Linked DNA regions of Homo sapiens. The protein of the gene in region 2 purifies or fractionates together with the protein of the main gene of each other region. This does not show direct contact. Each region holds a gene or a part of one and is shown on either strand. Other genes may lie near its edges.

Region 1 (5,994 bases), on a different chromosome or scaffold from region 2:
TCATCTGTGTTGGCCACTTCAATTGCAGCTGTAAGACTTATGCATTTACATAGGAGGCAAGTTAGTATGGTGTAAAGTGTGGGCTTTGGGGTCAGGCGCATGAGGCTTTGTATATTGGACAGGTCTCTTCCTTGGGCGTCAGCTTCGTCCTTGTAGCTATTTTTTTCAACAAATATTTACTGAATATCTCCTGTCTTCCACTTCTGGGGAATGAATATGGTTTCTGCTTTCTTAGAAATTTTACTCTAGTAGGGAGACTGTAACAAGTGTAAAATGGTATTAGGGGAGATGCCCGGGTGCTATAAGAAAATAAAATAGAGGGATTTGACCAAGCCAAGATTTTGAATTCTGTGTTCTAGATACTGTTCTGTTGCTTTGCTTGAACTAATTTATTCAATCTCACAACAGTCGTATGTCCCCCATTTACAGAAGATGAAAGTGAGGCACTGAGTGTTAATGTGACTTGCTCGAAGCTATAGTGCCAATAAGTGGCAAACAGGATTTAGAACTCCAGAACCTGTGCTCTTAATCATACTATGCTATCTACGGTAAGGGAGTGTTTTCCTTTGGAACTGAAAATTGAGACAAGTTTTGAAGGATGAAGTGACCTTTTCTAACAAACAGAGATGAATGTTATAGGTGAGAGAGCAGTGTATGCAAAGGTCCTGTGGCCAGAGGGAATGACAGGTTAGAAGAACTGAAAAAAGCCTACAGAGGCTCTGATGCAGAGAGTAGATGGTGTTGGGGAAGCTGGCAGGAGTCAGACCATCTGGCTCTTATAGATCACATTATGAGGTTTGGTGTTTGTCTTAGAGCAGTGGGAAGACATTGATGTTGGAGGTGGGAGGGATGACACTGACATTTTAGATTGGAGAGGCTGAGAGGAAGGCTGTTACTGTACTTACTGTTGTACACTTGTTATACACTTACTGTGTAATACATACGCTTTGATGATTCTTACCTGGTTTTTTCCTTTTAATGTGTTGGCAGAGACTGCATCTTGTCTATTTCTGTGTTCTTAGTACAATGTTTGACACAATAGGTGCTGAATGTGTAACAATAGAGTAGCATTATGTTTGTGCCGGTAAAGAATTCCTCCTTGGGGTGGGAAGCATCTCTGAAGTTCACTATCACTCTAGGGGAACTTGAGCTGCTGCTTAGCTTCTCTCTGCGCTTCTCTTCTATGAACTTGAAATATGCTCTACTGAGTCTGTTTGAAGCTGAATCTTTTGAAGATTTTAACCCCTCCCATCCCTCCCTCCACCTCTGCAAACCTTTTGGTTGGTTGAAAAGCAGCCAGCTAACTCTAGGGTCTAGTCTAGAGAATTCTGACCATTCTTTTAGCCAGTCAACAGAGTTTATTTATTTTTAGGGTATATGTAGAGTTCACCTTTTAGTCTTATTTGTTTTGTGTATCAGCTTTTTAAGCACATTCTGTTTTAATGCCTAGTTTTTTCTTCTGCGTAAATGTTTTCAGTGGCTCTAGGATGTTGGTTTTATGGTAATTGCTATAGTTATTATTGAACTCTTATATGCCTTGCATGATTTTTCTTTGCTTTTCTTTTTTTTTGAGATGGGGTCTCGCTCTGTTGCCAGGCTGGAGTGCAGTGGCGCGATCTCAGCTCACTGTAACCTCCACCTCCTGGGTTCAAGTGATTCCCTTGCCTCAGCCTCCCAAGTGGCTGGGACTACAGGCGCACGCCACCACCACCGGCTAATTTTTTTTTGTATTTTAGTAGAGATGGGGTTTCACCATGTTGGCCACCTCGATCTTCTGACCTCTTGATCCACTGCCTTGGCCTCCCAAAGTGCTTGGAATTACAGGCATGAGCCACCGAGCCCAATGGTGTGATTTTTCATATATCTTTTATCCTTATAACAACTAGGTAAAAAATCCCAATTTTACAGTAGAGGAAACAAAGCTCAGGGCAGTTAAGTAGTTGCTTAAAAGCACAATTGGCTGAAGTAGAATTTGAACCTTAGATAATATGATTCTGAAGGCTTTCTTTTCTTTCTTCCTTTTTTTTTTTTGAGATGGGGTCTGGCTCTGTTGGCCAGGCTGGAGTGCAGTGGCATGATCTTGGCCTACTGCAGCCTCTGCCTCCTGGGCTCAAGCCATCCTCCCATCTCAGCCTCCCAAGTAGGTGGGACCACAGGCACGTACGACCACACCTGGCTATTTTTTAATTTTAATTTTTATTTTTTGTAGAGATGGGGTTTTGCTATGTTGCCCAGGCTGGTCTCAAACTCCTGAACTCAAGCAATCCACCCACCTCAGCTTGCTTTTCTAATTACAAATTGTCTCATTTGAATCATGGTCTCATTGTGTGATGCATTCATGAAATTTGAATGTTTAAGCCCTGTGTTACTTGACATCCATTATTTTCTTTTGTAATCAGTAAATATGGAAAAGAATGTTTAGGCTTATATGAATGCTTTAGAATTGCCTGGAGGTTAATGTTTCCAACATGCTGATAAATTTCTGACAAATCATTTGGGAAAAGAAATTTCTGAGATTATTACAGAAACTAGTTTCTGGTGTAAAAAAATGTTTATAGACATTTATATATTTATACATCTACCATTTGGATTTTATTCTGTTCCTGAGAGGTTCAGAACAGAGGTAAAAACTGCTCTAGTCCTTTTCTAAGAGGAAAAGATGTGACATTTTTGATGAAGAGTGAGGGAAAAGGATTTGTTTAAATGATTCCAAACTTTAAAAAATGTAGGTGGGAGAACAAGGATGAAAAAGGAATTTGGGAAGAAACACTTTTTTGGTGGGGCTGGAAACATAGTGTTTCATTGTAGGTATCTGGAGTTAGATGCCCGCAGGAGCCATGCTGAGGTGCTGGGTATCAGTGGCTGGCTTTTGGGCCAGGGATACGAGGCTAGAGTTAGAGTTAGAACTGTGAGCCCTGACGGATATAGTGAGTCAGTTAATATTTAATTGAATAAATGCTTCGTTTTATAACCCTAAATTAGGATTTGGAAGAAGGAAGAAGAGACAAGAGGAGTTAGAGGTATGGTTTGAGAGGAGCCAATGTAGTGTAGTGTTACCAAACCTAGGAAAGAAATTTCAAGAAGTAGTTAGCATTCATTCATTCATTTGTCTAGAGATCTAGCTCTTTACTCAGAAAGTGTTTGTGGAGCATTTTCTAAGTTCCAGGTACTATGGCACGTACAGAGGAGAGAAAAAGAAATTAAAACATATTCCCTAACTATGTCCCAGGTGCAGAGAGGCTAAGGAATAAAAGATTGATGAGGCCAGGTGTGGTAGCTCACGCCTGCAATCTCAACCCTTTGGGAGGCCAAAGTGGGAGGATTTCTTGAGCTCAGGAGTTTGAGACCAGCCTAGGCAACATAATGATACCACCCCCACCCCCGGCTATCTCTACAAAATAAAATAAAATAAAATAAAAATTAGCTGGGTGTGGTGGCACGTGCCTGTGGTTCTAGGTACTTGGGAGGCTGAGGAGGGAGGATCACTTGAGCCCAGGAGGTCAAGGCTGCAGTGAGCTGTGATCACACCAATGTACTACAGCCTGGGTGACACAGCAAGACCCTGTCTCAAAAAAAAGTCTGGGCACGATGGCTCATGCCTGTAATCCCAGCACTTTGGGAGGCCGAGGCAGGCAGATCACCTGAGGTCGGGAGTTCAAGACCAGCCTGACCAACATGGAGAAATCCCGTCTCTACTAAAAATACAAAATTAGCCGGGCATGGTGGCGCATGCCTGTAATCTCAGCTACTTGGGAGGCTGAGGCAGGAGAATCACTTGAACCCAGGAGGTGGAGGTTGCAGTGAGCCGAGATTGCACCACTGCACTCCAGCCTGGGCAACAAGAGCGAAAATCTGTCTCAAAAAAAAAAAAAAAAAAAAAAGATTGGTGAAAGAATTTGAAAAGATCTTTGATCTTTAATGAGAATAATTTTAGTAGCATGGTAAAGTGTTATATACAAAAAATACTGCTTTTGACAACACTCTTGAATAGTTGAAGCAAAATTATATTTTTTGAAAGATAAGCATATTGCATAACTTTCAAAAATTAGTTTCTTTATTTTAAATGCCTATTGACATTTTCGTTAGAAAAAACCCCACAAACTGATGGGATCAACCTAATAAGATCAAAATAAAAGTGAATTTAAAGAATGTTGGAAGATACAGTTTTGTGATTTCATTCACAAAACCTAATACAGCATCCATGTGGCATACTCTCTTTGGTATTGTTTGTTTGTTTTTGAGATAGAGTCTCATGTTGTCCAGGCTGGAGTTCAGTGGTGTGATCTCCGCTCACGGCAACCTCCGCCTCCGGGGTTCAAGTGATTCTCCTGCCTCAGCCTCCTGAGTAGCTGGGATTACAGGCATGTGCCACCATGCCCAGCTAATTTTTATATTTTTAGTAGAGACGGGGTTTCACCATGTCGGCCTGGCTGGTCTTGAACTCTTGACCTCAATTGATCCGCCTGCCTCGGCCTCCCAAAGTGCTGGGATTACAGATGTGAGCCACCGTGCCTGCCCTCTCTTTGGTATTATTTATTCAAGAAACCTTTGGTTTCCTAGAGCTGCTGTACAAATGACCATGGACCTGGTGGCTTAAAACAACAAATTCATTCTCCCACAGTACTAAAGGCCTGAAGTCTGAAATCAAGGCATGAGCAGGGCCATGCTTCGCCTGAAGGCTCTAGGGGAGAATCCTTTCTTGCCTCTTTGAGCTTCTGGTGGCTGCATTCATTCCTTGGCTTGTGGCTGCATCACTCCAGTCTCTGCCTCTGTCTTCACATGGCTGCCTTCTCCTCCTCCTTCTTGTGCGTCTTTCCCTCTCATTCTTTTATAAAGACACTTTTCATTGGATTTAGGGCCATGACAAGATCTAGGATGATTTCATCTCAAGATCCTTCACTTTGTTGTATTGGCAAAGACACTTTATCACAGGTTCCAGGACGTGGACACATCATTTTAGGGGCTATCGTTCAATTCACCTACACGTAGTATGTGTCAGACACTACTTAGAGCTGGGAATATAATTGTGACTGTTTCTGCTCCCATTGTGGTTACATTTGAGTAAGGAGACTGTGCTCGTATAAATAGAAAAGTTCAGAGAGTGAGAAGTGCTCTCGAAGGAAAAAGATAGGTTAATGGGATAGAGAGTGGTAGTGGTGCTGAGTTGGGGATGTTACCTAATGAGACCATGGGGGACATTTCTGAGCATGTGGCATTTGGACAGGAAACTGAGCCAGCCAGCCATGTGACTATATGGGGGCCTAGCATTGCAGACCAAGGAGTGCCAGGGCAAAAGCTCTGAGGGGAGATTGCATTTGGCATAATTAAGGGATGAATGTGGCTGCTGTGGTTGGAGTGAACTGAATGAGGGGGTGATCTTAGGAGATGAGGGAGGAGGAGTGGGTAGGCGGGACAGAGTCATCAGGGGCTTGTATTTGGAATTTAGTAATGAGAGTCCAGTTGGAGGCATTTAAGCACATTGAATTTATGTTTGGAAAAGACGTTTGTGACTAGTACGTAGCGAATGTCTTAGTAGGGGTGGGAGTAGGATTGGGGACTGGGGTGGGAAGAGTGGAAACAGAGAGACCCATCAGGAAGCTGTTGTAGAAGACCAAGCTAGAGATGATGGTAACTTGTGCTAGGGCACTGGAGTTGCTGAGAACTGGTCAGACTTGGAATGTATTTTGGAGCTAGAGCCAGTATCTTGCTGTGGGGTTTGAAGGCAGATACAGATGTACCTCATATCTTGGCTTTATTGACCCTGCAGATACTGCTTTTTTTTTGTTGTTTTTACAGATTGAGGGTTTGTGGCAACCCTGCTTTGAGCAACTGTATTGGTGTCATCTTTCCAATAGCACATACTTACTTGGTGTCTCTGTGAAACATTTTGATAATTTTTTCATTATTACTATGTCTGTTATGGTGATCTGTGATCAGTGATCTTCGATATTCTTATTGTAAATATTTTGGGGTGCCGTGAACCACGCCCATATA
Region 2 (5,994 bases):
GACAGAAGGGCCCATAATGCCTCTGTGACCTATGGGTTTGTTTTGCCTGTGACATTCAAAAACAGTCCCTTGCCGGGCGCGGTGGCTCACGCCTGTAATCCCAGCACTTTAGGAGGCCGAGGTGGGCAGATCACGAGGTCAGGAGTTCAAGACCAGCCTGGCCAAGCCAGGAGTTCGAGACCAGCCTTGCCAACATAGCGAAACCCTGTCTCTACTAAAAATACAAAAATGAACTGGGCGTGGTGGTGGGCACCTGTAGTCTGAGCTACTTGAGAGGCTGAGGCAGGAGAATCGCTTGAACCTGGGAGGCGGAGGTTGCAGTGAGCTGAGATCACGCAGTTGCATTCCAGCCTGGGCGACACAGCGAGACTCTGTCTCAAACAAAACAAAACAAAACACCAGAAACAAAAACAGCCCCTTAAAAACTCCACTTTTTGCAAACCTGAGGTAGTAGATGCTGCAGATGGGTACCTGTGTCCACTCTCAGACAGGTGAGAACAGGGCCTCATAGACTTAGGGACAGCTCAGGAGACCCAGATGTGCACTTATGGTTAACTTGGTTCTCTTGTCCCAACTTAACTCTCTTTTTGTCTTTAAATAGGTACATGTGCTCCCTGTCATTGTTCCACTATTCTGAATACTTGGTGACAGCAGTCAATAATCCCAAAAGTCTGTCCTTGGATTCCTTTCTCCTGAATCACAGCCTGGAGTATACAGTAGCTGCTCTTTCTTCTTGGTTAGAGTTCACACTTGAAAATATCTTTTGGCCAGGTTCGTGTGCCTTATGTCCCCCTCTGGAGGGGAAAAGGGTGGCTCCCATTCAGGCTGAGGACAGTGACATTGATTCACCTTTCAGGTCTAATCTCCCCCAAGCGATTTTCCGCAGACCTCTATCCTCACTAAGCTATTTATAAAGGATGAGCTCCGCTCATGAATTCTGCCTCTGGATATTGACTCGAGGACGTGCTGACCTTTTGCTTTAAAGTTTGCATCACATAGTGCACCATCTAATTTGAAGCCCCAACCTTGAGTAGTTGTGATTCTAATTTTATAATCAGATGATATTTAGACGTTTCATGTAAGAGTTTACTGGCCGGGCACGGTGGCGAACGCCTGTAATCCCAGCACTTTGGGAGGTCGAGGCGGGTGGATCACAAGGTCAGGAGTTCGAGACCAGCCTGGCCAATATGGTGAAACCCCGTCTCTACTAAAAATACAAAAAAGCCAGGCGTAGTGGCACATGCCTGTAATCCCAGCTACTCGGGAGGCTGAGGCAGGAGAACTGCTTGAATCCGGGAGGCGGAGGTTGCAGTGAGCCGTGATCGCGCCACTGCACTCCAGCCTGGGTGACAGAGCGAGACTCCCATCTCAAAAAAAAAAAAAGAGTTTACTAACAAGGTCGGGTGCAGTGGCTCACGCCTTTAATCCCAGCACTTTGGGAGGCCGAGGTGGGTGGATCACATGAGGTCAGGAGTTTGAAACCAGCCTGACCAGCATGGTAAAACCCCGTCTCTACGAAAAATACAAAATTAGCCGGGCCTGGTAGTGCATGCCTGTAATTCTAGCTACTTGGGAGGCTGAGGCAGGAGAATTGCTTGAACCCAGGAGATGGAGGTTGCAGTGAGCTGAGATTGTGCCATTGCACTCCAGCCTGGGCAATGAGAGTGAAACTCCGTCTCAAAAAATAAAAGCCTCCGTATGTGGAATGCACTCTGAAATTGAATGTCTCACAGCCAATGAAATGAAATACATGTGGCTCCTGGGATTCAGGGTGGAAACCTTGGACCCTTTTTTGCTTCTCTTAGCTATACTTGTCCCCAGATGAAGGACTGAGCATGTGGCCGGGGGTCGTGAACCAGAGAGCCCATCAGCTGTAGCAGGAGAGCATCTCTTTACCATGATGCTTTCATTGTGCTTATTGGTGTTTTAAAGTAAATTGATGAACAGCATAACTTAGGGGAATGTGTTTTCTTATGAAATTTTAATGTGATGACAAATGCTGATTGCCCAGCAGCACATTTTCTGTTTCTGTCTTCGGGAAAATAGGTTAATTTTAAGCAGTGCGAAGGGGAGCTCAGGCCAGTGTTTTCACTCCCCGTGTGTCGTTGATGTCTCTCTCCCACAGAACTGAAGCAGATTACCTGGCTCAGTGTCACAGGGCTGCTGATGGTGGTCTTCGGAGAATGTCTGAGGAAGGCGGCCATGTTTACAGCTGGCTCCAATTTCAACCACGTGGTACAGAATGAAAAATCAGATACACATACTCTGGTGACCAGTGGAGTGTACGCTTGGTTTCGGCATCCTTCTTACGTCGGGTGGTTTTACTGGAGTATTGGAACTCAGGTATAATATTAAATATGACACTGCTTTTCTTTTTTTTTTTTTTAAGTAACATTTTAAACGTGATATTCACGTAGCATAAAAGTCACCATTTCAAAATATACAATTAGTGGTTTTCAGTGTATTCATGAGGTTGTTGGTCTCCTTTAAATAATAGGTACATGTTCTTCTTGGCGCGTTTCAAGTGATAATTTAATAAAAGTCAAGAGAACTAATGTAGTCCTTAATGCTTTTCACTATGTGCCCAGAACCTGGGTGCGTAAGTCCTTGGTGATTCTTGGTGCTGTTAGCTACCTGCTGTATCCCTTCATCCTGTTTCTGCCTCTGTTTGTTTGTTTTCTTTTTTCTTTTTTTTTTTTTGGTAGAGACAGGGTCTTACTGTGTTGCCTGGGCAGGTCTCAAACTCTTGGCCTTAAGTGATCCTCCCACCTCAGCCTCGCAAAGTGCTAGCATTATAGGCATGAGCCATTGTGCCTCTCCCTTTCTCTGCCCCTTCAACCTATTAATAGATCTGAAGCACCCCAGAGGGGGTGAGGACAGAGATGGGGCTTAGGGAAGGGAGTGCCCTCTGTCACTCATGTGGCAGCTTGGCTAGTTTTCATCAGAAATAGGTATTAATGGGGCCGAGGCCATGTGTTAGTGAGCTGTGTGAGCCATGGAGGTTTGTTCTGTCTCAGGCTGAAGAAAAGGCCTTGTTTCGTTTCTTTTCTTTTCTTTCTTTCTTTTTTTTTTTTGAGACCTAGTCTTGCTCTGTTGACCAGGCCAGAGTGCAGTGGTGCGATCTTGGTTCACTGCAACCTCTGCCTCCCAAGTAGCTGGAACTGTAGGCACGAACCACCATGCCTGACTACTTTTCGTATTTTTTTTGTAGAGACAGGGTTTCTCGAGTTGCCCAGAGCCATCTTGAACTACTGAGCTCAAGCAGTCTGCCTTCCTGGGCCTCTCAAAGTGCTGGGATTACAGGCTTGAGCTACAGTGCCTGGCCTTTTTTTTTTTTTTTTCCTTTTTGAGATGGAGTCTCACTCTGTTGCCCTGTTGCCCAGGCTGGAGTGCAGTGGCATGATCTCAGGTCACTGCAACCTCTGCCTCCCAGGTTCAAGCGATTCTCTTGCTTCAGCCTCCTGAGTAGCTGGGACTACAGGCGCCCGCCACCACACCCGGCTAATTGTTTGTATTTTTAGTAGAGATGAGGTTTGACTGTGTTAGCCAGGATGGTCTTGATCTCCTGACCTCATGATCTGCCCGCCTCGGCCTCCCAAAGTGCTGGGATTATAGGCATGAGCCACCGTGCCCAGCTTTTTTTTTTTTTTTTTTTTTTAAAGACAGGATCTTGCTGTGTTGCCCAGCCTGGAGTGCAGTGTTCTGATCATGGCTCACTGCAGCCTTGACCTCCTGAGCTCAAGTGATCCTCCTACCTCAGCCTCCCAAGTAGCTGGAATACATTACAGGTGTTGCCACCACGTCCGGCTAATTTTTAAATTTTTTGTAGAGGTGGTTCTCCTGGACGGTTGCCTGTAATCCCAGCACTTTGAGAGGCTGAAGTGGGTGGGTCACTTGACATCAGGAGTTTGAGACAAGCCTAGCCAACATGGCAAAACCCCATCTCTATTAAAAATACAAAAATTAGTTGGGCCTGGTGGCACATGCCTATAGTCTCAGCTACTCGGGAGGCTGAGACCTGAGAACCGCTTGAACCTGGGAGGTGGAGGTTGCAGTGAGCTGAGATTGTGCCACTGCACTCCAGCCTGGGTGATGGAGTGAGACTCTGTCTCAAAAAAAAAAGAGATGGTTCCTCCTTTGTTGCCCATGCTGGTCTTGAACTCCTGGGCTCAAGCCATCCTCCTACCTTGGCCTTCTAAAGTGCTGGGATTAGGCCAGGCATGGTGGTTCTTACTTATAATTCCAGCTAGTCGAGAGACTGAGGCACAATATTTGCTTGAACCTGGGAGGCAGAGGTTGCAGTGAGCTGAGATCACGCCACTGCACTCCAGCCAGGGTGACACAGCAAGAATCTGTCTCAAAAAGAAAAAAAGAAAAAGAAGTGTAAGGATTATAGGTGTGAGCCACTGCACCTGCTCTATGTGTGTGTGTGTGTGTGTGTGTGTGTGTGTGTGTGTGTGTATTTTTTTTATTTATGTATGGTTTTTTGTTTTGTTTTGAGGCAGGGTCTCTCACCCAGGCTATAGTGCATTGGCATGATCATGGTTTACTGCAGCCTCTACCTCTTGGGCTCAAGTGATCCTCCCACCTTAGTCTCCTAAGTATCTGCCCAGGCTGGAGTGCGGTGTCACAATCTCGGCTCATTGCAACCTCCGCCTCCCGGGTTTGAGTGATTCTCCTGCCTCAGCCTTCTAAGTAGCTGAAACTACAGATGTGTGTCATCACACCTGGCTAATTTTTGTATTTTTTAATTAATTTATTTTTTTGAGATGGAGTTTCACTCTTGTTGCCCAGGCTGGAGTGCAATCATGTGATCTCAGCTCACTGCAACCTCTGCCTCCCGGGTTCAAGCGATTCTCCTGCCTCAGCCTCCTGAGTAGCTGGGATTACAGGCATGCGCCACCATACCCGGCTAATTTTGTATTTTTAGTAGAGACGGGGTTTCTCCATGTTGGTCAGGCTGTTCTCGAACTCCCAACCTCAGGTGATCTGCCTGCCTTGGCCTCCCAAAGCGTTGGGATTACAGACATGAGCCACCATGCCCAGCCCCTGGCTAATTTTTGTATTTTTGTAGAGACGGGGTTTTTCCATGTTGCCTAGGCTGGCCTCGAACTCCTGCGGTTGAGTGATCTACCCGCCTCGGCCTCTCAAAGTGCTGGGATTACAGGCGTGAGCCACCACATGTATTTCTTTTTCTTTCTTTTTTTTTTTTGAGACAGAGTCTCACTTTGTCGCCCAGGCTGGAGTGCAGTGGTGCGATCTTGGCTCACTGCAACCTCCACCTCCCGGGTTCAAGTGAGTCTCCTGCCTCAGCCCCCGCGAGTAGCTGGGATTACAGTTGTGCACTACCTCGCCCAGCTAATTTTTTGTATTTTTAGTAGGTTTAGTAGGGGTTTCACTGTGTTGGCCAGGCGGTTCTCAAACTCCTGACCTCAGATGATCCACCCGCTTCAGCCTCCCAAAGTGCTGGGATTACAGGCGTGAGCCACTGCATCCAACCCGCATATTTCTTTTTTAAAATTACTATTTGGCTAGGCACAGTGGCTTTGGGAGACCAGAGCAGGAGGATTGCTTGAGGCCAGGAATTAGAAACCAGCTTGGCTGGCCGGGCATGGTGGCTCATGCCTGTAATCCCAGCACTTTGGGAGGCTGAGGCAGGCAGATCATGAGGTCAGGAGATCAAGACCATCCTGGCTAACACAGTGAAGCCTCATCTCTACTAAAAATACAAACAATTAGCCTGGTGTGGTGGCACGCATCTGTAGTCCCAGCTACTTGGGAGGCTGAGGCAGGAGAATGGCGTGAACCCGGGAGGCGGAGCTTGCAGTGAGCCGAGATCGCGCCACCGTACTCCAGCCTGGGCGACAGAGCGAGACTCCATCTCAAAAAAAAAAAAGAAAAAGAAACCAGCTTGGCCAACATAGTGAGAACCCTTCTCTCCAGAGGAAAAAACTAAAAATATATCTGGAAGTTGTAGTGTGCACCTGTAGTCCC
Region 3 (5,320 bases), on a different chromosome or scaffold from region 2:
TCTGTCACCTTCTGAAGCCTAGATCTTGTTAACCCATCAGGTGCAGTGTCAGTTTCAAATCAAATTATCTAAGAAAACAAGAAAACAAAGGCAGCAGACTATTGGTACACATTATAGTCCAAAGTGCTTAGCGAAGTAAAAAAAAAAGCTTTTTAAAATTTCTATTGTTGTCTATTGGTAATGTTTTTGATCAGAATAAAGAGGGTAAAGGGAAAAAGTTACTACACATGCTAGGCTTTCTCAGTGGGGAAAAAAATGGCTGGATAGAACTGGGACAAACACAGACCCATCTTTAGGGGTCTGGATTTTGTAGGTCCGACTACACAGCAGTGTTAACTCATTTCTCATGCCATTAGCTCTCTACAAAATAAAGCAAAGTAGTTCTAGTGTGGTCGTTATAAACCAATATTGTGAAAAATAGCAACTATTCATTTGTTCACAACATGCGTATTTATAGAGTAGTTAGGTACCATTTGTAAGGTAAATCCTTTAAAATTCTATAATACATACTAAAATAGTGGTTATTGGTCTGATATATGCTGCTCTTGGTTCTATAAACTAGATAAAAGCAGTGCTTTGTGAAATGCAGTGTTCTCTCTTAACGCCACTGGTGATAGGAAGTAGTTCCCTTCAGTTCAAATCCTGTGCCCTTATTTGCTGCTTGCTGACGTAAGCAATAAGTAACCCTCTAACTAATGGTATCTACATATTTCTGTAACTTGTATTTAATGATGGTGTACCTGGTGATTGTAAAAATATTAGACAGATATAAAAGTATCTATATAATATCTATAAACTGTTAATGCTGAGGTATAGTCTGTGAATTATGTGTTTTGTATTTTTATTCATTGTGTAATTTAGTGGTGGTGAAAGTTCTACACTCAATCCTTAAAGAGTGGCAGTATCCCTTTTTCAATTTAACATGGTCTGCATCAATCTGTTTGCCTGCTAAACAAGTTAGAATAGGAAATAGTAAAATAAATCCAAACAAGAGTGTAATATTGGTTAGGGAAACAAACTTCAGGTCACCAACTGAAGTCATTACAAACTCCTTGTACATTCACTGTGAGTTTCAAAGGGAGTCAGTCCCTAATTTACAGGTTTCCTTTGTTCACTTTCTAGATGTGTACTTTTGAGGGACATGAGGTTAGGCAACATTACAGCAACACACACTGGGGCTATTAATCCCATTTAGGTCTGTACTAAAGAGGATGGGTAGAAACACATATGTATATACCTTTTCTTTACCTAGAAGTGCCATCCATTGTCCTTGAATTATTATGATTAAAGTTACTGTTGCATTTAGGAGGCTCCTTGAAAGTAACACCTTTTCCAAGGACAATGGCAACAATGTCAATGTCAACACTGAGTCTAATTTTGACCACATTTATAGTGGTATAGTGTCAATACTGCATTTTCATGACAACCACACTCCACTGTTGAAACACTGTGCCAGTGAGAAGTGCAACATCCAGTGGGCAGATGAAAATGATGCATGGCCAAGTTCAGTGTTTACAGATAAAACTGCTGTGGTTCAAGTGCTTCCTTCCCCATCAAATCCTTGATAAGGCTTTGTGGGAAAATGATCTAAATTATTGTTTTAATTTTTAAACCTAATTTATTCACTCAGTGAACATTCTTACCTAAGCAAGGCTATAAAAGGGAATACTACAGTTTTGTCCACACTTTAATTTGAGACCATTTTTCTTTGAATCGTAAGTTAGCAAAAGAAATTTTTTTCACCTTTGAAAATCACGTGATGTTAAAGGACAAATGCCCACTCTTCTATTCTGATCTGCAAATAGCTTAAATGTCTCTTGCAAAACAAAGTAAGATACCACCAGTATTACAACACAATGATTTTCCAGACAAATGGTATGGTGTTGAAAAATAACTGTTACTTCTTAAAGCAGCATTTTATCTTCTATTTTGAAGACTATTTATTGTAATAATTAGAAAACATGAAATAGGGAACTCCAGACTGACACAGCAGTTGTTTTTGAAAAGGAAATAAACTTTGATGAATTAGATAATCCAGATACATCATTGTAAACTCTTACTCTAGGTGCTCTTTGGTGAGAGACAGGCTTTGTTCTCTTGTTCATAACATTTCTCTGCAAAGAATTCTCTATGGAGTGAAGCGAATGAAGTGAATAATTTCTTACCAAATAAATTTATCAATTTACAAATCTGCTCTACATCTCACTTTTGAGTTCAGTTGTAGTCATGAGTGATCCTTCATATTTTATTAAAAGTGTTCATTCAGGTAAGGTGTATGTTGAAATTTTGCCAATTATCTTAATAAAACCTGGCAATTTAAAAACCACTAGTCATTTGTCTTTTTATTTAAAGGAAAGGTAAGTTATTTACTGTTTAAATTTGTGCAGATTTCTTCAGAACTGGAAAATAAAATCCTGAGATGGACGTTAAGTTTGGAAGCTTGGAACATTTAAAAAGAAGATTTGCTAAATGCTGCTGTAACATTATTTTACCCCAGAAGAGAGGTATTTAGCCTTATACATGTTCTCTTCATTAGCTGAACTGCGAGGAGAGGGAGTGGTGTTATAATCCTAAAAGAAAAGAGGAACCCGACCTGCCAAGGACTAAGCGGTGGTCATCAAATCTCCCAACTACTTCATTCTTAGAACTCTGCATCTAACCAAGCTTTCCCCTTTCGCTTAGCCTCTTTGAGTTTCAAGCTAGAAGAAAGTAAGGAAATCATCAGATGAGCTGTGGTGGAAAGCCTCCCAAGGACTGCTGATAAGTGAGTAAAAGGAGACAGAGACAAAAAGGACAATGTGGGGGAGGGAAGTCACTTACGACACCTGCATCTGAAGGGAGGGAACTGACCTTCCAAACGAGTCAACCTTGTCAATACACTGCACTGTTCTCCTGCCTACCAGTAAAGAAGGCCTTTACAATTAATTTTACATAGTTTCAAAAATCTTCAACTCCTAATTCCCTAAATTCATTCAGTCCTTGGCATGACTTTATATAGAACCAAATGAACAATTGAGAAAAAAAAGGTGAAGTTTTGAAAGAAGGACATATTTGAAGGGGTTTACTGAAGCAGGGAATGACAGAAAAGGAACATTTTGATTAGTAAGTGTTACACTTGAAAAAATTCCCTAAAATATAGTATTACTTAGATCAAAAGGAACACCTCTTTCTGAAGGAGCAGCACACAGCAAGACAGAAGGGAACCACTAGGTACAGTAAAATCATTTGAACATCATAGAAATTTACCCAAGTTACCAAATTATCAGAAACAACTGTCTGTACTGACAAGCTGCATAACTGAGCATTCCCCCCCACACCCGCCCCCTGTTGCTGTCAGTGTGCATCATTTCCTTTCCTTCTTTTGAGATGGAGTTTCATTCTGTCACCCAGGCCGGAGTGCAGTGACGTGATCTTGGCTCACCACAACCTCTGCCTCCCAGGTTCAAGCGATTTTCCTGCCTCAATCTCCCAAGTAGCTGGGATTACAGGCGCCCGCCACCACACCCAGCTCATTTTATTATTATTAGTGGAGGTGGGGTTTCACCATGTTGGCCAGGCTGGTCTCGAACTCCTGACCTCAGATGATCCACCCTCCCACCTCGGCCTCCCTAAGTGCATCATTTTCTTTTTGATTGCAAGTTTCCATCTGTCTTTTTTTTTTTTTTTTTTCTTTTTTGAGACAAGAGTCCTGCTGTGTCACCCTGGCTGGAGTGCAGTGGTGCAATCTCGGCTCACTGCAACCTCTGCCTCCCAGGTTCAAGCAATTCTTGTGCCTCAGCCTCCCAGGATGCTGGGATTACAGGCGTCGGCCACCACGCCTGGCTTTTGTGTTTTTAGTAGAGACGGGGTTTTGCCATGTTGGCCAGACTGGTCTTGAACACCTGACCTCAAGTGATCTGCCTGCCTTGGCCTCCCCAAGTGCTGGGATTTACAGGTGTGAGACACCACGCCCAGCCCCATCTGTCATCTTAACAGCAATTAGTAAAGAACACTTTTTCTATTGTGCTTTAGGGAACCTCCTTTTGCTTGGCCTAGGAATAACCTTATGGAAGATCCCTTACTTACATTTAAAACAAGTCACATTCTTTTCTGAGAGCCCCAACTGTTGAATATGTTTAGTAAGAAGCGCTCTTCCCTGGGCAGTTGGTTGAGCCTGCCTCTTATGCTGAGCTGTAGGATGCTGCCCCAGTCACGCAACCTCCAGATGAAGTGTGTCCTCTCCTCATTGTGCAAACAAGGGCCCTCACACACAGGTTCTATTTGATTTTTATAATCTTGCTTTAGGACCAGGGAAACAAATGTGAAAAACTGTCAAGAATGATACACATTTGGGGAAACCATTTTCCAAATGAGTAACTGGAGTTTAACTAAAGATGATGAAAAAGTTGTCCCTGCTAGTCATTACATTGAGTAGTATGACAGCTACAGGATTAGGGGTGGCCAATTAAGCCAAATCGAGTTGCTACGGGTTCACTAGGTCAAATGAAACCCAGTGGGAGGTGAGCCTATGCAGCAGCCTTTCCCAAATGCACACCAGGAGACACTGACTGACCTGAAGGTCTCGGGCAAGGACTCTGGCCCGCAGGGTCTGCAGAGCAGGAATGGAAGGGAGACTCCCGGTCAACATGCCAGCCAGAGAAAAGGATTTTAGAAAGAGAGCAGCCCGTACTACTGATGTCCCAAACTACACTGTGGCTAATCTTACCATTTGCTCTTAAGCATCCCTAAGCAGAGTTCTAAAACTTCTATAAATCTAGACTATGAAGGCATGTATTGGTAGATGTGAGAATGAGAGGTAGAATGAGGAGAAATCTAAAAATATTACCACATAAAAATTCAAATGAATATGCAAAAAAGAAAATAGCTCTTGGGGTTTTCTATTTCCCAAATTTTTCTAATCTTATCACCTTTATAATTCAAACATTTAAAAAACTAGATAAAAAAATTAAAAATGGCTCATTTTCTGAATTCTGGTTTTAGGATTAATTACACTCATGTTTTACATTCAATAAAATGTGTGTTTTACATATATACATTTTTAAATCACAGCACTTCCAGCTTCCACTCCGGGATGTAGGGGTAGAAGGAGCATTTCTTCTACTCTTACAATGCAAACGAGCCAGATGAACTATAAATTAGGACATTTTTTCGAATCCATTGGAAAGCTGAGGTTGCAGAGTAACCAAGTGGCACCAAATGGAGAGGGGCAGTTGCCTGCAAGGGGAGAGAAGACATTAGCACTAGTTTCGTAGGGTCGTTGTAAACAGACACTGGAAAGAATAGGCTAGCTAAAAGTGATGATTGGTGAAGGCAGAATATG
Region 4 (6,706 bases), on a different chromosome or scaffold from region 2:
TGTTCACTTGGGGCTTTGGTCTCTCACATTCAAATTCAACTCTTCAAATTTCCAAATAGATTCATTTCATTTCCATTTTTAGAGGGGGTAGGGGCAGGGAATTGACAGAGACTTCTCACATTTTTCATTTCCTTTTAAAATTAAATGTAGATATGGACTCCCAAGCTCCAAGGTGTGCTTTTTCAAAACTTTCCAAACACTATATATTATGTGGATGTACAGCTTCGCAGCTACCTGGCTAAGAGAGACCCCAGAATTTAATAAAGCTTATCTTTAGTTTCTAAAAAGGAGTCAGAATGCTGGAGGGAAGCCTGCAGCCCAAGGACAATGCATTTTTCATCTCACCAGCCCCAGGACCTCTTCCACCCACTCCTTACTCGAGGGCTATGCCCACTGTCTGAGAGAGAAACTAATAAACCTGAAGGTTGAGTAACCAGAGAACTTAAGGACATTAATAAGCCAAGACGTGGAAAATCATCCCTTTGGGTGCTTGTGGTATATAGTTTCGAATGCTGCTGCTAAGAGACAAGTTTAATGAGATTCTTCTACTAGGAAGGAAGTGAAAAAGGCATTGCCACTACCCACCGTGAAGCTATCTGCCCTTCTTTTCTCTACTTGACAACTTCTGATAACCACATGCTTACAATTTTATGACGTTCTAAACTATCTTAGAATCTCAGCGAGATTGCAGAGGTTGACTCATATTCTATTTTTCCTCTGCAGAGCAGTGGGGTACAGTGGAAAGGGAATGAACTTTGGAATCAAGCAGGCTGGGTTATCCCAGATAAAGATACATATAAAGGTACACACATACACAGACACCTCCTAGTGGTTCTGCTTCTCTGAATGCTGACTGGCACAGTACCTATGTGATGTTCAGCCAGTTGTTTAACCTCTCTTGCCTCAGTTGCCTTACTGGAAGTAAGTATTTCACAGGGTTATGAGCAATGAGTTTAAAAATGCCTATGAAGGCTGGGCGCGGTGGCTCACACCTGTAATCCCTGCACTTTGGGAGGTCGAGAAGGGCGGATCACTTGAGGTCAGGAGTTACAAACCAGCATAGCCAACATGGGGAAGCCCCGATTCTACTAAAAAATACAAAAATTTGCCAGGCATGGTGGCGGGCGCCTATAATCCCAGCTACTAGGGAGGCTGAGGCAGGAGAATTGCTTGAGCCTGGGAGGTGGAGGTTGTAGTGAGCTGAGATCGCACCACTGCACCTCAGCCTGGGAGTCAGAGCAAGACTCTGTCTCAAAAAACAATAAAAATAAAAATAAATAAACAAATAAAAATGCGGCCGGGCGCGGTGGCTCACGCCTGTAATCCCAGCACTTTGGGAGGCCAAGGTGGGCGGATCACGAGGTCAGGAGATGGAGACCATCCTGGCTAACACGGTGAAACCCCGTCTCTACTAAAAATATAAAAAATTAGCCAGGCATGGTGGCGGGCGCCTGTAGTCCCAGCTACTCTGGAGGCTGAGGCAGGAGAATGGCGTGAACCCGGGAGGCGGAGCTTGCAGTGAGATCGCGCCACTGCACTCCAGCCTGGGCGACAGAGCAAGACTCCGTCTCAAAAAGAAAAAAATAAATAAAAATAAAAATGCATACAAAGTACTCAACCCAAAGCCTGGCACACAGCAGGCACTCAACAGTATTTCCCATTCCTTTCCCTCTACTTCCCTATGCTCAAGGTACAAACATTAACACCATCTTTGGTTGCAAGGGGATCAGATGTTGGCTGGTCAGAGCATCTTCTCTTTACACACGCCTCAAGATACTGGCAAATTTGTGCTCTGTATCCTTTCCTTTTTAGACACCTGTTTCTTCTTCCGCATTAATTTTCATCAAAAAAAAAAAAAGGCTGTCATGCAATTAGATGAGAGCTTTCATCAGTCACATTCTAGTCCTGAGACCTGGGTGTTGCTCAGAGGTCAAACCAAACACACACCCACTCTAGGGATGGATTTCTCCTGCTGATGATGGCTAATTACATGCATCATGTGCTGAATTTTTAATAATTTTACTCCCAGATTAAACTCTTCCCCAGATTCTGTTGCAACTGACTCTAACCCTCTAATGAATGTCTCCAACCTCACATCCAAGTGGAACCTGATTATGCACCTATGTGTCCCAGCAATCAAACGCAGGATGAAAATCAAAATGAACCAGCAGGGCATGGTGGCTCATGCCTGTAATACCAGCACTTTGGGAGGCCGAGGCAGGAGGATCACTTGAGGTCGGGAGTTCGAGACCAGCCTGGCCAATATGGCAAAACCCCATCTCTACTAAAAATACAAAAATTAGCCGGGCATGGTGGCACATGCCTGTAATCCCAGCTGCTCAGAAGGCTGAGGCAGGAGAATCACTTGAACCAGAGAGCTGGAGGTTGCAGTGAGCCGAGGTTGTGCCACTGCACTCCAGTCTGGGTGACAAAATGAGCCCCTGTATCAAAATAAGGAAAAGAAAAAAAAAATTGTCCCATCCAGTAAAACATGTCACTAGCTGCCATTTCCCCAGGTGGATGGCTAACGGAAATACGGGCCTGCTAAAAAGACTCAGGAGACAATATTATCCATCTCCTTCCCTTCCAACCTGCTCTGGTTTCTATGAAAAAGTGAAGGCCAAACTGCTAAGTCAGTGTAAAAGTTGTAAGCGACTGAAATGTTCTCAGGAGGAAGAGTTTATGGATGTTTATGGAGGAGACAGTCACTGTTGAAAGGCTTCCAGTTGCTTATTATTTGGGCCTGAGGAGGAACCACCGCTGAAATCAAGCTTGGAAGAGCTTGCTGACGTCAGATTCCCAGCTGTAGTAACCCCAAATGGCCAAGTAAGTATGTTTTTTTTTTAACTGCAGCTGTTAGGTGGCAATTAAGAGGGGAAGCGGTGGTAAGGAATCCCTAGTGTCTGTAATTATAAAAGCAAGGATGTGACATAGGACTTCCATAAAACTTACACCTCCTCTTAAGATTGATTTCAATTAAAAACTGCTTCATCGTTGGTGACACTTTAGCATCTCTGTTGGTGGCTTCCTGCCCTGACCACACAAGGTTCCTTTCGTGACGACAGGAATCAACAAAAAGAAGAAAAAAATGTAAGTTTACCAACGCGCCTTCCCTTTTTCCGAGCCTGATTTATACAGGATATATGGGAAGAAATGTGGACTCCTTGACCTGTTACAAGAATCCATCAACCACCCAAATAAATGGAAACGTGGAAAGAGATTCAAAGTCCTCCAGGTTTTAGGATATTTTAAGGTATTTAAAAGGGAGAAGGAGGCGCCGACAGCGCACCCGGTGCTCTGTGTCACGATCTTCCGCTCGCGGCGCCTTTGAGGACAAGGGCGGCGGGAAACGGGTCCGCGGGGTTCCGAGGCGAGCGGCCGTGGAGGAAGCGCCCCCGAAGAAGGCCTGGTCCCTACGCCCCGCACTGCCCAGCGCTGGGGAACACAGATCCTCGGAGGAGGCCCCAGGGAGGGAAGGCGGGAGCGGGGCCCGCGGGAGGGGAGGGACGGGAGCCGTTGCCACGCACCGCGCCCTGCCCGGACCGCCGCGGGACAGCCAGTTGTTCAGTGCCGGGATCCCGCGGCTGTGCCAGAAAGCAGGACGCCGCGGGGCTGCCGTCCCGACCCCTCGCTTCCTTCCGCGCTCCCGGGACCGGGCTCAGCACCCGGCGCCCCGGCTACGACCGGACACTCACCCGGAGCCACCAGCGGCGAACTCACGGCGCCTCCCACGAAGACAGCAGCGGCTAGGACGGCGGACCCCGGGAGTGCCCGCGGAGCCATCGCCGCGTCGCTTCGCCCTCCTCCCCCAGGGCGCCGCGTCCCGCGCTCGGGAAGGCAGAGCCGCTCCGGAGCCGGCGGGCTGATCGAGTGGCTGGGCTGGGCCCCAGGGAGCGGCGAACCCCGCCCCGCCATTGCCCCGCCCCACGCCACACCCACCTCGGCTCGGTCCCGCCTCTCCCCGCGCGCCCCGGGCTCCACCTAAGCCGGCACGAGGTCCACTCATGGCTCCGCCCCCGACTCCCCGCCCACCTCAGCCTGATCCCGCCTCTCCCTGCCATTCCCGCTTCCTTTCCAAACCCCGCAGCAGCCTCAGCGGCGTAGCTAGGCCATGGACACGCCCTCTTTCTCCACCCACCTCAGCTTGGCCCCGCCTCTCCCTACCGAGCCCCGGACTCCACCTAAGAAGGCACGTGGCCCATCCATGGCCCCGCCCTTTTCCCCACCCACAGCTCAGCCCGACCCCTCCTCTCCCGCTTCCTTTCCAAACCCAGCAGCAGCCTTGGCGGCGCAGTTAGGCTATAGCCCCGCCCTTGCGCCCTGCCCACCGTGGCCCGGCCGTGCCTCTACTTGCCAGGCCCGCTTCCTTTCCAAGCCGGGCCGGGATTACGCGGGAGCCCGGGGCGGGGGGAGGGTCGCCCGGGTGCAACCTCCCTCGGTCGCTGGGACTAGGCGGGCGTGGGAAGAGAAAGAGGGAGCGCGCCCCGAGAAGCACTGGACAGTCAGAAGCGGCCAGCACTGGAGTGAGCACAGGCTTTTTTCGCTGTTGGCATGTCTATCCACTAGCATTCCCCTCGGTTGCAGATCTAGGGAGTGATGCTGTGCTGGATGTCACGTTCTGTTGTTTGGAAATTAGCAGAAAAGATAACTTAAATTTCTTCCTCTGTTTGTTTGCATTTAAGCTGCTCCTATTGGGGAAAATACCTCTATGCATTTTCAGGAACAACTTGCCTTTTTTTTTTAATCGTGTGCTTGTATTGCACCTTGCGCATACTCCCGCAAAGTAGGTCTTTCAATGCCCAGACGCTTATTATCTCCTCACATCCTCACATCAGCTCTGCGAGGTGACTATTAGAGGCCAGGGAGTAAACCCACGATGTCTGGGCCACCATGATAAATTGTAATTATCTCATTGTCATTGTGTTTGCTCGCTGCTGTGCCCTCAGCGCCTGGATGGAGGACAGACAGCACACGCTAAGAGGTCAGAAGTGTTTTCTGAAGTTGAATCATCTTCACAAGCATTAATAGGACTCAGAGGCTCTCTCTGAATAGTTCCTTTTTACTGCCCTGTAGAGACTGTTGTTACTGGGCCATCAAGCATTTGCTTGAAGGAAATTAGGGCAGGACTTGAGCAAATACTCAACACCAGCAAGAAGAGGGGGTGCATGGAGGCTGTGGGTTTTCACAGGATGGGTCTCATCCTTGAGGTGACTGATAACCTCTAGTTTTCAGAGGACTATTTATTCTCTCACCGAGTCCTCCACGCAGTCTGCTGGACTATTATTACAAACATTGCATTGATGTGGGAATTGCCAGTGACAGAAGCTCAGGCCACTACAGTACAGATGGCTGAGGCTGAAGGATGGAGCCCCTGCCCTTTGAAGCCCAAGGAGGGCACTGCGCGTCCTGCGCTCAGTTGGCAGCGCATCCTACAGTCTGGCAGTCTTAGCAGGCAGCCTTTGCTAGTTTTATATCAACATAAACATTGAGAATGTGTGCGGAGGAAAGCGATCCATGTGGATTTCTAACTAAAACAGGAGAGAATCCCGGACCTAGAAATTAAACTATAAATTAGAAGTTGTAGCCAGAACCAGCTATAAAATTTGCAGGGCACAATGCAAAATGAAAAGGCAGGGCCTTCTGTTCAAAAATCGTTAAGAATTTCAAGATGGCAACAACACAACATTAAATCGATTGTGGAGCCCTCCTAAACACACAGTTGCACAGGTCACACACTTATAAAGCCAGCTCTGGTTTTGTAAGTTAGAATGTAACAAAATGCTTGAATCAAGAAATCTAATCAAAATGTAAAATGTCATTTCAAAATTGAATCATGTTTCACTCTTTTCCCACAGATTGGACTTAGTATTAAAAAGATGGGATCGTTTTTGGCTGGGCGCAGTAGCTCAAGCCTGTAATCCCAGCACTTTGGGAGGCCGAAGCAGGCAGATCACGAGGTCAGGAGATCGTAGACCATCCTGGCTAACACGGTGAAACCCCATCTGTACTAAAAATACAAAAAAGTAGCCAGGCGTGGTGGCGGGCGCCTGTAGTCCCAGCTACTCGGGAGGCTGAGGCAGGAGAATGGCGTGAACCCGGGAGGCGGAACTTGCAGTGAGCCGAGATTGTGCCACTGCACTGCAGCCTGGGCAACAGAGCGAGACTCCGTCTCAAAAGAAAAAAAGAAAAAAAAAAAAGAAAGACGGGATCATTTTTAACAACACATTTGAATTGTATATCTGTTATGGCTCTTCAAATATAAAAATCTAGTACTTAAGCCTTACCCATTATCTACCAGGCCCTTTGTTTTACAGATGAGAGATGGTTAAGTGATCTGCCTGACATATCTACTATGAGCCAGGGTTGAAACCCAGGGCTCTGAAATTTCTCTTCCTAAACTTTCCATAACACCTGCTTGACACACTCTCTATAAATGTCTTACTTTCACGTACCCCGTATACATGCATTTGTATGTCTTGTTAAAGGAATGAAGGAAGGGTAGGAGGAAGAGAGGGGGAGGGACGGAGGAAAGTGAAGAAGGGAAGGAGAGAGGAAAGAAAGAAAATCAAGCTTAAATTATTTTCCATATCCTTAACCCTACAGATTTATTCATACAATTTAAATAGCTTCTACATATGTATATCTAAAAATCCACTGTTTTATTTTAAAAGTAAGAACCCCAATGTAATGGAACTTCTATTCTCTA
Region 5 (5,994 bases), on a different chromosome or scaffold from region 2:
TTCTGTCACTTGCAACCCAGTCGTCCTGAATAACACACACAATTCAAACCTGGGTTTATGTTAATTCAAGACCTGTGCTCTTAATAGCTTGCTATTCTGTTTTTTTGTTTTGTTTTTTGGAGACAGGGTCACCTAGGCTGGAGTACAGTGGTGTGATCACAGCTCACTGCAGCCTTGGCCTCCCAGGCTCAAGCATTCCTTCCACCTCAGTCTCCTGAGTAACTGGGACCACAGGTGCATGCCACTATGCCCAGCTAATTTTATTTTATTATTATTATTATTATTATTATTATTTTTTGTAGAGATGAGGTCTCACTATGTTGCCCAGGCTGGCCTCAAATTCCTGGGCTCAATAATCAACCCACATCAGCCATCCATAGTGCTGGGATTACAGCTGTGAGCCACCATGTCTGGCCAACAGCTTGCTATTCTGTTTTTGATTACTAGGCTTATCAGGAGATCAGGTTAGAAAGGGATCTCCCTCCCCCCTCCCCCAACCCTCCCCCTCTCCCTCGCTTCTTCCTTCTCCCTCTGTTGCTGAGGCTGGACTGTACTGCCGTGATCTCAGCTCCCTGCAACCTCCCTGCCTCGGGCTCCCGTGATTCTCCTGCCTCGGCCTGCCGAGTGCCTGGGATCGCAGGCACACGCCGCCACACCTGACTGGTTTTTGTATTTTTGGTGGAGACGGGGTTTCGCCGTGTTGACCAGGCTGGTCTCCAGCTCTTGACCTCGAGTGATCTGCCCGCCTCGGCCTCCCGAGGTGCTGGGATTGCAGACGGAGTCTCGCTCACTCAATGCTCAATGTTGCCCAGGCTGGAGTGCAGTGGCGTGATCTCGGCTCGCTACAACCTCCACCTCCCAGCCGCCTGCCTTGGCCTCCAAAAGTGCTAAGATTACAGGCTCTGCCCGGCCGCCACCCCATCTAGGAAGTGAGGAGCGTCTCTGCCTGGCCGCCCATCGTCTGGGATGTGAGGAGCCCCTCTGCCCGGCCACCCCATCTGGGAGGTGAGAAGCGCCTCTGCCCAGCTGCCCATCGTCTGGGATGTGAGGAGCGCCTCTGCCCGGCCGCCCCGTCTGGGAAGTGAGGAGCGCCTCTGCCCAGCTGCCCCGTCTAGGAAGTGAGGAGCGCCTCTGCCTGGCTGCCCATCGTCTGGGATGTGAGGAGCGCCTCTGCCCGGCCGCCCCGTCTGGGAAGTGAGGAGCGCCTCTGCCCAGCTGCCCCGTCTGGGAAGTGAGGAGCCCCTCTGCCCGGCTGCCCTGTCTGGGAGGTGAGAAGCGCCTCTGCCCGGCTGCCCATCGTCTGGGATGTGAGGAGCGCCTCTGCCCGGCCACCCCGTCTGGGAAGTAAGGAGCCCCTCTGCCCGGCCGCCCCGTCTGGGATGTGAGGAGCCCTTCTGCCCGGCCGCCCCGTCTGGGAGGTGAGGAGCCCCTCTGCCCGGCCGCCCCATCTGGGAGGTGAGGAGCACCTCTGCCCAGCCGCCCCGTCTGGGAGGTTAGGAGCCCTTCTGCCTGGCCGCCCCATCTGGGAAGTGAGGAGCACCTCTGCCTGGCCGCCACCCCGTCTAGGAAGTGAGGAGCGCCTCTGCCTGGCTGCCCATCGTCTGTCTGGGAGGTGAGAAGCGCCTCTGCCCGGCCGCCCCGTCTGGGAGGTGAGGAGCGTCTCTGCCCGGCTGCCCATCGTCTGGGATGTGAGGAGCGCCTCTGCCCGGCCGCCCCGTCTGGGAGGTGAGGAGCGCCTCTGCCCGGCCGCCCCGTCTGGGAGGTGTGGAGCACCTCTGCCTGGCCGCCCCGTCTGGGAAGTGAGGAGCGCCTCTGCCCAGCCGCCCCGTCTGGGAAGTGAGAAGTGCCTCTGCCCGGCCGCCCGGTCTGGGAGGTGTACCCAACAGCTCCGAAGAGACAGCGACCATTGAGAATGGGCCATGATGACGATGGCAGTTTTGTCAAAAAGAAAAGGGGGAAATGTGGGGAAAAGAAAGAGAGATCAGATTGTTACTGTGTCTGTGTAGAAAGAAGTAGACATAGGAGACTCCATTTTGTTCTGTACTAAGAAAAATTCTTCTGCCTTGGGATGCTGTTAGTCTATAACCTTACCCCCAACCCCGTGCTCTCTGAAACATGTGCTGTGTCCACTCAGGGTTAAATGGATTAAGGGTGGTGCAAGATGTGCTTTGTTAAACAGATGCTTGAAGGCAGCATGCTCGTTAAGAGTCATCACCACTCCCTAATCTCAAGTACCCAGGGACATAAACACTGAGGAAGGCTGCAGGGTCCTCTGCCTAGGAAAACCAGAGACCTTTGTTCACGTGTTTATCTGCTGACCTTCTCTCCACTATTATCCTATGACCCTGCCACATCCCCCTCTCTGAGAAACACCCAAGAATGATCAATAAATACTGAAAAAAAAAAAGAAAAGGATCAGCGTGGCCTAGGGCAATACACAAAGCTTGCATGAGGGAAGGGAGCCTCAAAGCACGGATGGATGAATCTAACTAGGCAGAAAAGCAGGAAAGCAGGGTAAAGGCCTGGAGGTGGAAGTGAAGAAGGTTCTGCATGGAGCTGAGATGCCTGGCTTACTGGAGCCAGAGAAAGAGAAGGGACGGGCGGCTCGATCTTCAGACTGGACAGATAGCCAGTAACCCTGAGGACTGCTCAGTGGTCTGAGACGAGTGACCAACACAGAGGCCCCACCCAGCTCCTTCCTCAGTAGCCATCAGGGTAAGGCCTCAAAAAGCAGAGAGTGATAACCTCCAGGCCCAGAGAACTTGGGTGGCGAAAGAGGTAACAGCCTTCAGTTTCTTGCTCTGATACCTCCAAACTTGGCAAAAAGTAGGATGTTCGGTACGAGGAATAAAGGGATTTTGGAAGCATGAACACTTAGATGTGTGTATCTGGAAGTTATGTGTACCCAGCATACACTAGAGGCTCAGTGACTACCTCCTCCTCCACCTCAGGAAGCACCTTGGTCAATGAGAATCCCTGTCATTAGTCCAGCCTAACTTAGTAGGACAGGAAAAAAAAAAAAAGAGGGGGGCTGGGCCCAGTGGCTCATGCCTGTACTCCCAGCATTTTGGGAGGCTGAGGTGTACAGATCACCTGAGGTCAGGAGTTCGAGACCAGCCTGGCCAACACAGTGAAACCCTGTCTCTATATAAAAATACTAAATTAGCCAGGCTTGGTGGTGTGCGCCTGTAATCCCAGCTACTTGGGAGGCTGAGGCAGGACAATCACTTAAACCTGGGAGGCGGAGGTTGCAGTGAGCCAGGATCACGCCATTGCACTCCAGCCTGGGCAGTAAGAGTGAAACTGTCTCAAAAAGAAAACAACAACAACAACAACAACAACAAAAAACAACTCTAAAAAATTAAAAATTAAAAATTAAAAATTAACTGGGTATGGTGGCACACATCTGTAGTTCCAGCTACTCAGGAGGCAGAAACAGGATGATCACTTAAGCCTGGGAGGTCAAGGCTGCAGTGAGCTATGACCGTACCACTGCACTTTAGCCTGGGTGACAGAGTAAGACCTTATTGCAAAAAAAAAAAAAAAAAAAAAAAAAGCAGGCACACAGAGTGGACACTCAGCAACCAGCTTGCAAATCAAGATTAGACTGGGCACAGTGGCTCATGCCTGTAATCCCAGCAGTTTGGGAGGGTGAGCTGGGCAGATCACATGAGGCCAGGCATTCAAGACCAGCCTGACCAACATGACGAAACTCCGTCTCTACTAAAAATACAAAAATTAGCCCAGCATGGTGGTGCACACCTGTAATCTCAGCTACTGGGGAGGCTGAGGCATGAGAATTGCTTGAACCTCACAGGCAGAGGTTGCAGTGAGCTGAGATGGCACCACTGCACTGCCTGGGCAATACAAAAAGACTCTGTCTCAAAAAAAAAAAAAAAAAAAAAGATTAATCAGCACCTGCCTGGTTTTCTTCTCCTGGAACTCTGCCCACGGGAGGCAGATCATGGAATGGTAAAGGCATCCTCTCCCCCAGCTCATGTCCTGAGGATGAGCAACCTCAACCCTGTCCCAAGTTCCTGGCTCCACAGACTTAGCACACTGAGCCCCCAGCCTGTGCCAGCTAGGTCTCAATCACTAGCAAATGCTGCTGAAAACAATGGTGATGGCACAATGGCAGATAACCTGAAACAAGGTTAGACTCTTCTCTCCTTCCCAGCTTTCCAAGTCTACCATATGGGGACAATGACACCACGACAGTTGAGGAGTGCATGCCATACACTTAAAATCCTCAAGGCAGTCAGCAGCATCTGCAGGGCTGCCTGGCAGAAAAGGAAGGGGTTTCATCCTGAACAAGTCAAGCGGTAACCCACAAATGGGGACCACAGAGAGACTAATTTTGCTTCTATTTAAAGAATGGTGACATACAAGACAATGAAAAGCTTGAACAGAAAAAAAACTAAGGAAATGAAGGCAAATATAATGAGAGAATAAAGAAAGGCAACTAGAAACTCCAAGAAAAACAAAAGTAACATAAGAAAGCAAATGTAACTGTTAAACATTATTTGGCTCTGTTGGAACAATATTTATTAAATACATGGCTTAAATAACATACACATTTTATATTAATTTTCAATGTTTAGAGTCAATCCACAGATAAAACATGGAAGATAATTACGGTTTTAAAGCAGCAGATAATTATAGTCTACTTTGATAACATGAAAACAGAGGACAGAAATTGTAGGAAGGGGTGAGGAAAGCTAAAGTTTAGGGTAGGGGACTAATATCATCTTTTTATTTTAGTTTTGGAGACAAGGTCTTGCTCTGTCACCCAGGCTGGAGTGCAGTGACACAGTCATGGCTCATTGCAGCCTTGACCTCCCAGGCTCAAGCAATCCTCCCATCTCAGCCTCCTGAGTAGCTGGGACCACAGAAAGGCATGTGCTGTCACACATGGCTAATTTTTAAAATTTTTCCTTTTTTCTAAAAGGAATCAAAGGCTGGGCGCAGTGGCTCATGCCTGTAATCCCAGTACTTTGGGAGGCCAAGGCAGGTGGATCACCTGAGGTCAGGAGTTAGAGACCAGCCTGGCCAACACGGTGAAACGTCATCTCTACTAAAAATACAAAAATTAGATGGGCGTGATGGTGGGCACCTGTAATCCCAGCTACTCGGGAGGCTGAGGCAGAATTGCTTGAACTCTGGAGGTGGAGGTTGCAGTGAGCCAAGATGGCACCACTGCACTCTAGCCTAGGGGACAAGAGTGAAACTCCATCTCAAAAAAAGAATAAAATAAAATAAACCAAGAAATAGCAGTTGAGTGTAGTTTTTAAGAGTGTGGACTTGGCTGGGCGCGGTGGCTCAGGCCTGTAATCCCAGCACTTTGGGAGGCTGAGGCGGGTGAATCACAAAGTCAGAAGTTTGAGACCAGCCTGGCCAACATGGTGAAACGCCGTCTCTACTAAAAATACAAAAAATTAGCTGGGCGTGGTGCCGAGCACCTGTAATCCCAGCTACTTGGGAGGCTGAGGCAGGAGAATCGCTTGAACCCGGGAGGCGGAGATTGCAGTGAGCTGAGATCATGCCACTGCACTCCAGCCTGGGTAACAGTGTGAGACTCCATCTCAAAAAAAAAAAAAAAAAAGAGTCTGGACTTTGGAGACTGTTTGGGTTCATATCCCAGCTCTGCCACTAACCAGATCTTGAGCAAGTCACTTAACTTCTTGGGCCTTAATGTCCTCATTTGTAAAATGGAGATAATAGTAGATCCTATCCCTTTTTTTTCTTTTTTGAGACGGAGTCTCACTCTTGTTGCCCAGGCTGGAGTATAATGGCGCGATCTTGGCCCACCGCAACCTCCGCCTCCTGAGTTCAAGTAATTCTCCTGCCTCAGCCTCCCGAGTAGCTGGGACTACATGCGCATGACACCATGCCTGGCTAATTTTTGTATTTTTAGTAGAGACAGGGTTTCTCCATGTTGGTCAGGCTGGTCTTGAACTCCTGACCTCCTGATCCGCCCATCTCGGCCTCCCAAAG

The links.
Region 1: the proteins of ICMT (region 2) and PCCA purify together in Homo sapiens (affinity purification with mass spectrometry; 2 studies listed by BioGRID and IntAct, with this or other methods). This does not show direct contact.
Region 3: the proteins of ICMT (region 2) and PPM1E purify together in Homo sapiens (affinity purification with mass spectrometry; one large-scale study listed by BioGRID and IntAct). This does not show direct contact.
Region 4: the proteins of ICMT (region 2) and RELL1 purify together in Homo sapiens (affinity purification with mass spectrometry; one large-scale study listed by BioGRID and IntAct). This does not show direct contact.
Region 5: the proteins of ICMT (region 2) and CLN6 purify together in Homo sapiens (co-immunoprecipitation; one large-scale study listed by IntAct). This does not show direct contact.

Annotation. Positions count from the first base shown.
Region 1 is NC_000013.11:100,090,370-100,096,363, forward strand, and holds part of PCCA (propionyl-CoA carboxylase alpha chain, mitochondrial isoform a precursor), read left to right. Parts: intron 1-5,994. UniProt on the Homo sapiens protein: This is one of the 2 subunits of the biotin-dependent propionyl-CoA carboxylase (PCC), a mitochondrial enzyme involved in the catabolism of odd chain fatty acids, branched-chain amino acids isoleucine, threonine, methionine, and valine and other metabolites.
Region 2 is NC_000001.11:6,228,251-6,234,244, reverse strand, and holds part of ICMT (protein-S-isoprenylcysteine O-methyltransferase), read left to right. Parts: intron 1-601; coding exon 602-771; intron 772-2,125; coding exon 2,126-2,343; intron 2,344-5,994. UniProt on the Homo sapiens protein: Catalyzes the post-translational methylation of isoprenylated C-terminal cysteine residues.
Region 3 is NC_000017.11:58,982,854-58,988,173, forward strand, and holds the end of PPM1E (protein phosphatase 1E), read left to right. Parts: 3' UTR 1-64; coding exon of another isoform or gene 65-68; 3' UTR 69-2,326; downstream 2,327-5,320. Other genes in the region: E3 ubiquitin-protein ligase TRIM37, read right to left, coding at 5,136-5,214. UniProt on the Homo sapiens protein: Protein phosphatase that inactivates multifunctional CaM kinases such as CAMK4 and CAMK2. Dephosphorylates and inactivates PAK. May play a role in the inhibition of actin fiber stress breakdown and in morphological changes driven by TNK2/CDC42.
Region 4 is NC_000004.12:37,682,505-37,689,210, forward strand, and holds the start of RELL1 (RELT-like protein 1 precursor), read right to left. Parts: upstream 3,873-6,706; 5' UTR 3,784-3,872; coding exon 3,696-3,783; intron 1-3,695. UniProt on the Homo sapiens protein: Induces activation of MAPK14/p38 cascade, when overexpressed. Induces apoptosis, when overexpressed.
Region 5 is NC_000015.10:68,220,735-68,226,728, forward strand, and holds part of CLN6 (ceroid-lipofuscinosis neuronal protein 6), read right to left. Parts: intron 1-5,994.